Linked DNA regions of Homo sapiens. The protein of the gene in region 2 purifies or fractionates together with the protein of the main gene of each other region. This does not show direct contact. Each region holds a gene or a part of one and is shown on either strand. Other genes may lie near its edges.

Evidence for each region. The genes of interacting proteins can lie anywhere in the genome.
Region 1: the proteins of SLC22A1 (region 2) and RAB38 purify together in Homo sapiens (affinity purification with mass spectrometry; one large-scale study listed by BioGRID and IntAct). This does not show direct contact.

Annotation. Positions count from the first base shown.
Region 1 is NC_000011.10:88,112,751-88,116,443, reverse strand, and holds the end of RAB38 (ras-related protein Rab-38), read left to right. Parts: intron 1-2,303; coding exon 2,304-2,456; 3' UTR 2,457-3,193; downstream 3,194-3,693. UniProt on the Homo sapiens protein: The small GTPases Rab are key regulators of intracellular membrane trafficking, from the formation of transport vesicles to their fusion with membranes.
Region 2 is NC_000006.12:160,120,415-160,124,614, reverse strand, and holds the start of SLC22A1 (solute carrier family 22 member 1), read right to left. Parts: upstream 2,801-4,200; 5' UTR 2,680-2,800; coding exon 2,269-2,679; intron 1-2,268. UniProt on the Homo sapiens protein: Electrogenic voltage-dependent transporter that mediates the transport of a variety of organic cations such as endogenous bioactive amines, cationic drugs and xenobiotics. Functions as a pH- and Na(+)-independent, bidirectional transporter.

The DNA of each region.
Region 1 (3,693 bases), on a different chromosome or scaffold from region 2:
TTTGGGGTATAATTTTGTTGCCTCCTTCTCCAACACACAAACAATAGCCAAATGGGAATCAAAGTATTGGCTTATTAATGGCCAGGCAAGTACGTTAAAACCATTCAAATAGGGCTTCTTTAATGAGATGTGATGGCTCTTAAGTGGAAGTCTGGGCGAGGAGACCCCTTTTTACCTTCCTGAATGGGACACAGTAGGGGACCATCGGACAGGCTTCCACTCAGTCACATAGCAAGTGGCAGGGCTCCGGAACAAAGTGTTGAGCTGGGTCCGTTCCAAAAAGCAAGGCCCTGCCTAGGTCAGTTGGTTGCCTGGGAGCAGGGAGTTCAGGTGTGACCCTTAGACGTGACACTAAGAAGAGGAAGAGTGGCAGAAGACATGCTAAGCACAGGCAATGACTTTAAGGCACAGGAAGTTGCCCAACAGGGGATGGGGCAGAAGCATTGCTGTTCTCTCAGGACTGGATTCCATAGAGTGAGGAAGATACTTGAGCTGAAGGAAGAAATGCCATCCCCACCCTTACCCCAACAATAATAACAAAATCCATATGGACAAAAAACATAATCTTTATCTTAAAGGGTGTTAAATGGGATTAAATAAGATTACTTACTTACTATTGAAGTCCCTAGCAAGTTCACATTGTGAAAGCAATAATGTCTGCTGCACTCTGTCAAGGGAAGCAAATTTTTATTAGGTAAGTGTTATCATCAAGACCATTTTATAGCTGGGGAAAGGGAGGCTTAGAGAAAGGAAGACTGGTCTGGTAAAAAGCAACAACAATAATATAATAAGCAAAAAAGCAATCACACTTTTACCTTGTGTTTTGGATTTAGAAAGCCTGGGAAACATTTTCTTTAAGGCTCTCTAGAGAGGAGATAAATAATTAGGCTATACTTGTCTGGAACTCCAAAGTTACCTTAAGCTTTCATAGCTGGTGAACTCAGTTTCAGGCTTGAAGGATGGAGAACCTGCTAATAAACATTTACAACTAAGGTCATTAGTCATGGATGCCATTTGGAAGCCAACAGTACTTCTTATATTTTCCAAGTAATATGACTCCATTCAATGATCTCAAAATATATCAACAACTTTGACATACATGCAAAAATCAGGGATAAGTATTTCCACTTCAGATTGGACAACAAGGTTCTGTAGTAAAACATTTTAACAACGAGAAAGCCTTGTCTCTTTAAGTATGAAGAAATACATCAAAGAAGTTCTACAAATTGTGATTAAAAACAATCAAATTTAACTTTATTGCAGATCTTTAACTACTTTTTACCTAATCAAAGATATTTATTTTAGTACACTGGTAGTATATTTTCTATATGTCTTAGGTTTCTGACCAGCAGGAACAAAAAAAGCAGTTTAACTTATACTACTGACATATTTTAGATTCAAATGTTTGCTCCATATTTTTTCCAAATTCAAGTTTATTTCATTTTTGAACCTAAACTTATATTTCCAGTTTTACTTTTTTCCTTGAGGAGTTATATCCATCTGGAATGTCTAGATAATGCCAGGGTTTATTTGGGGTAATAACCTCAAATCTCAGTGGGTTAAAATAGCAAAGATCATCATTCTCATGCACACTACATAGCATGGGCTGATTGGGATACTTGCCTCTACTTGATTCTCACTCACAGACCTTATCCAAAAGAGTTTCCATTGCTGTGCTTCCACAGGGAGAAACAGAAAAAACAGGAAACTGAGCACTGGCTCTTATTGCTCCTATATGAAAGTGACACACATTACTTCTCACATTTTGACGCCCAACAAGTCACATGTCCATGGCTAAGTTCAAAGAGGTCAGAACAGTGTACTCTTCCCCATTTCACTAGAATATAGAGACCCAGAAATATCTGTGAAACCATTAATGCATACTATAAAAGATGTCTTATCATTCTTATTTTATATCAAGGTCACAAAAATAGTATGTGGCAGAGGGCAATTATAAATCTAAGTCAGATTAAAGGTTTATGTTTCTTCTACAATATTTTTATAGTTTGAGTATGTGAAAATGTGAAAATAAGAAAATTGCCCTCTAACTGAAATTTAACCTACTAAGTACATTTACCAGACACCATTCCTCCTATATGACATAGCAAAATAAATACTTCTTTTTTGAGGAACCAAACAGTAAAGTTCTTTGAAGGAACAAATAAGAGTGAGGGAAACAGGAGGGGGATGCATATGTAGCATATAGGAAGGAATATTTAAATGAATTGTCACATATAAGTCTCTGCTCTAGCATTATTTCAGAGTATTGAATAAGAAAAGCTGTTTTATTTTTTCCCTCATAGGAAAATATAAACATTGATGAAGCCTCCAGATGCCTGGTGAAACACATACTTGCAAATGAGTGTGACCTAATGGAGTCTATTGAGCCGGACGTCGTGAAGCCCCATCTCACATCAACCAAGGTTGCCAGCTGCTCTGGCTGTGCCAAATCCTAGTAGGCACCTTTGCTGGTGTCTGGTAGGAATGACCTCATTGTTCCACAAATTGTGCCTCTATTTTTACCATTTTGGGTAAACGTCAGGATAGAGATACCACATGTGGCAAGCCAAAGATCTATGCCTCTGTTTTTTCAGTGAGAGAGAAATAGCAAATGTTCTTTCTATGCTTTCCTCACCATCATCACAGTGTTTACAAACTTTTGAAAATATTTAGTCTGTTACAAACTTCTGTCATGTAGCTGACCAAAATCCTGCAGGGCCACAGTCGGCACTGTTATTTGCTTCTTTTAATCAGCAAAGGCCTCAAGTCTTAAAATAAAAGGGGAGAAGAACAAACTAGCTGTCAAGTCAAGGACTGGCTTTCACCTTGCCCTGGTGTCTTTTTCCAGATTTCAGTATATTCTCTGATGGCCTGACAGGCCTATTAAGTAGATGTGATATTTTCTCCCAAGATGACCTCCATTCTCGGCAGACCTAAGAGTTGCCTCTGAGTTAGCTCTTTGGAATCGTGAACACAGGTGTGCTATATTGTCCTTGTCCTAACTGTCACTTGCCATGGCCTGAATGTTGGCTTAACTGAATATTGTATGAAAAGACATGCCTCCATATGTGCCTTTCTGTTAGCTTTCTCTGACTCAAGCTGTGGGGCTCCTCTATACATGCTATACATGTAATATATATTATATATATTTTTGCAAGTGAACAATAAAACATTAAAAGATGCTGTTTCCCTATTTATGAAAGTGCTTTAAGTTTCTTAGTGTTGTGAAGGGATTTTTTTTTTTTTCGGACAAAGTAAACAGGGTTCTCAAGATCCATTTCTAAAATTTTATTTCAAGGAGGAGATGAGAAATGTATGCTTAAAGAAACTGCTGGACACTATTAAAACTGGGATGAGTCTATGCCATCTGCATTTACTGTTCATATTGACATTTAGGCTACAGAGTGTACAGTGCATATACATATTTTTAGTTAATCAGAGGAATATGTCCTCATAGATTCTGATTAAGAAAGGTGCCAGATCAATCAACATAAAAAGAAACAATAAAATATGCATTGTGACACCTTGGTTTACACAGTGGTTGTGGTGCTGACACGTGCAGGTAGCTATTATTTTTTAATGTCATTATTTCATATTAATATTTGTAATACACTCACAGGAGTCGTATATACATATATATATATATATATTTTGTTGTTGTTGTTGTTGTTGAGACGGAGTCTTGCTATGTCA
Region 2 (4,200 bases):
CTTACCGGGGCTCACTCTTGGCCTCCTCATGCATCTCTCTACCTCTCCTGAAGCCTCCAATCCCACCACCGCCCCTTCCCACCCATTCACGAGTCCAGCTAGGGTCACCTTGCTTGCCTGCCTAAATAAGACCCAAACTCCTTTGTTGGGCACTAAGGTAGCGTTGCCAGGGTTCACAAATAAAAATACAGAATGCCCAGGTAAATTTGAATTTCAGATAAACAACTTTTTTTTTTTTAGGATAAGTATGTTCATGCAATATTTGCATTTCCAGTCTCAGTTATCAGTACCAAATATCATGCAGTATCTGGGAAGTAAGTATCCTATCCAGTTGGATTATCTGAAGTTCAAATGTTCGAGTTTAACTGGGCATCCTGTATTGTACCTGGCAACCCCACACTAAGCACTCCGTGTTCTGGCCCCAAGGTTAGACACCAGTGTTCTCCCCACAACTCCTCATATCATGACCCTCATATCAGTGCTCCTTGCACCCTGAATGCAGCAAACACTCCCTGGGCCCTGAGCCTAGGCTCAAGCTCTCCCCTTGGTCTGGGGATCTACTTCCCCTCCCCTCTACTCCACCTGTCCCCTCTCCTTGCTGGTCCAAATACCAGCTGAGGCTCAGCTCAAAGCCACCTCCTCCCAGAAGACGTCTATGATCAGCTCAGAGCTCAGCAGCTGAGATCTCTACCTTCTTAGAGCCCACCAGTCCCTTTCCGCCCTGCTCATGGCATTCACCACAGGCGGCCTTGGGCTGTCATTAAACGAACACTGGTCTCATTCTTGCCATCCTCTTCCCCTCTCAGTCCCCACAAGACTGCAGACTCCTTGAGGGACCTCACAATCTTCTTCTGCATCTCCCCTGCGGCATCACACCCAGTGCCAGAATAGAGGGAGTATGCCGAACATACTGGGTGGATGTCTGACTGGAGGAATGATCACATCTGATCTCCTCAAAGCAGAGTATGTCTCAGTCCCAGAGAGCAAACACATCCTCATCCTGGTCTGCTTCTAGATTCCCAGTGGGAATGTCAGATGGTTGGAGATCCCTGGAAGGTGGGCTGCCTAACTTGTCATCCATTGTTGGAGGATGCCTTGGAGACAAGATGTCTCTTCAGCATCGTAAAGCCAGTTGCACCGGCACCTGCTCTGCTCCAGGCAAGCAGGTAGAGCAATGCTCAGGCCCAGAGGGGAGGGACCCTAAGCTTTCCTCCAGTAATAGCCCTAAATGTGTCACCGCTGATACCACTCAGGAAAGGGAAAAGAGGAAGAACAGAGACCCAAGAAGTCCGGAGAGCTTGGGCGAGGGTAGTGGGGGCAGACAAGTGGGCAGGACCAGAGGCAGGGAGGGCCCAGTTACCTCTTATTTCAGGGAAGCAGTGCCTGCACCAAAACCACGCCACTGCTCGTTACTAACAGAAGGCCCCTGACGGGCTTTGGCCCACAGCTTCTCCAACCCACCAAGCATCCACACTTGTTACCGTGCAATAGTTTCAAAAGGGCTCATGATGGGAAAAAAATGTGGTGACACTTTTTACTAAAGGATTCTCAAAGCAAAATGCTCAAATAACCAAGTAAACTACTCAAGCAAGGCCCTTTTGAGGCCATCGCCCTATCCCATGGGCCCCATCGGACTGCACGGTGTGACTCAGTTTGGATTTGCTCAGTGCTTTCACAGATCCCAGCTGAAGCTCACACCCCTATGAGGCAGCCGTCATCATCCCTGGTTGACTGATGAGGAAATGAGGCTTAGAGAGGCAGTGACTTACCCAGTGATGCTCAGCTAATAAGGGGCACAGCTGGGATTCCACCAAATATTCTCACTTCCAAGCCAGGGCAATTCCAGGCCACCTCAACACCATCATTGAGGTCAATCGTCATCACTCTTGAGCAGAAGGAGGGGGCCCACAGTACTATTGGTGGGGAAGCGGGACCCAGAGCAAGTTGATAGTTCTGGGAGAAGCCAGTGGGGCAGGCAGAGAGGCTCCTGGTCTCCCAGTCAACTCCCATTCAAGCAACCTGGCAACCTGGCCCCCGACTTGTGCTAGCTGTTCTCTCCTGCCTCAGCTTCCTCCTCAAAGACCCAGAGTTTGTGGTGGATTAAACTAGAGAAGAGAATGCCCCGTGCCTGGGACACAGCCAGACACCCACGAACTGCACAATAAACATAGCCCCCTACCTCTTTCCTGATATGGAACTGAACTTCATAGGATTTGCTTTATATTTCTCCCTGTCCCAGGAACTCCCATGTTACAGAGGCTTTTTTACCTCAGTGACGATGGAAGAGCCGGGCGTGTCATACACCCAGCCATCCTGGCAGGGACCCAGCGGCAGGTGGCTCCTGTTGGTGGCCAGGCTAGCCAGGGGGTCTACACAGCTGAGGGCGCTCTGGTTCCAGTCCACTTCATAGCGCCTGCACTGGCCAAGGAAGGCCTCGCCCGCGGGCCCCAGGCCTGGCACTGTATAGTTCAGCTCCTCCGCAGGGCTCCAGCCACAGCGCTGGCTCAGCTCAGCCACCCCAGGACTCTGGCAGTGGTGGTCAGGTGTGAAACCCAGGAAGACGATGCCCACACAGATGGGCGCAAAGGCAGCCGACAGCAGGCATAAGATGAGGAAGGCTTGCTTCTGGAACCAGCCAGACTCCCCAACCTGCTCCAGAATGTCATCCACGGTGGGCATGATGGCTCAGCATGCTCATGGCCGTGGCCAGACCTGCTCTGGGCTGCAGTGGCCAGGTGCAATGTCTCCCTCAGAGATCTTTGAAAAGGAGTGGTTTGAAATCAGTTTGCTGTCCAAGTGTGAAACATCTGGAAGGCAACCAAGTAGAAATAATCTTTTACCCTATGGTGCTGGTTTCAGGAAAAGGAAGAATGCACGTGGCCATCTGATCAAATCGTTTGCTTTGCCCGGGAGCGAGTCAGTGGGGTCTAAGCCCGAAGAGAATTGAAGTTCAGCCACAGAGCAAGAAGAGGGCAGGAGAGCAGGCCGTGCAAACCTCCTAGTAGCTCCCTCAGGGCTCTTCCAAAAAGAATATCTACTTGTTTTCTAGATGTGATGGTATGAGGCAAGTATTGGGTGACAGCCAGGTACTAGATACTGTATTCGGCTAATTAGTTCTGTGATACCATTTAAGTATTTTTTTTAGTTTTTTTTTCCCATAGGTTTTGAGGGAACAGGTATTATTTGGTTACATGAGCAGGTTCTTTAGTGGTGATTTGTGAGATTTTGGTGCATCCATCTCCCAAGCAGTATACACTGCACCCAATTTGGGTGTTTTAAGCTCCACCTCTTCATTTGTGTGTGTGTATACATGTCTAGATGTGTTTACTTGTATGTACACTTACTGTTATATGTTGTGTCTACCAAATTGGCTTATAAGTAAAAGAGTGTTCATAAATTAAGTAAATAAGTCTAAGCAATTTTCAAATTCACTTAAGTATGACTTTGCTAAATAGGCTGTCTTTTAAATTATCAGTAAAATGAAAATAGAAATGTCTTCAAAATATAGACATGGTCTAAATTATGCAAGTCAGAAACTAGGTTGACTAAATGCTTTAAGGTCATAAACTGCTTTGGCTTTTGAAAATTGTTCAACTTTCCTGCTTTGCAGTTTGGTAGGGCCTGCCCTAGCTATGCTGGAAATAGTTAGACCTCATCTGCACCTAAGTACGTAACTAAAATAACTTACTGGGTATTTCACCAAAATTAACAATTACTAAGAGCTACCATTATAACATGTAGTGATGACTACTGAAAACAGATCTACACGTGAGGTGAGTAAGGAGAGTAAAATGTATCATTAGTAAAATAATATAAGAAGGCATGGGAATGTAAATTTTTGCCTAGTTCAGAGGGTTAAATGATTGTTTTAAATTATATAAGATAAAGCTTAAGGTTCAAACAAGTTATGGAAGGTTTGTAAAAAATTAATCTTGTAAAAGGAATCCTGTGTGTAAACATATTGACTACACTAAAAAGGATATTATTTGGTTTTCCATAAGTTGAACAATGGAATACAAGCACAACAAGGTTTTCTTGAAGCACTTACATGCTGTTTAACAAAAAAAATTTGTAAAAGGTTATAAAAGATTTATAACAATCTCAGTTCATGATCAAACTGATTAAGATTGGATGGATTTCTCTGTAAGGTTTTATTTTTTTTAATTGGGGTTGACATTAATAGACTAATGTAAGGGTAAA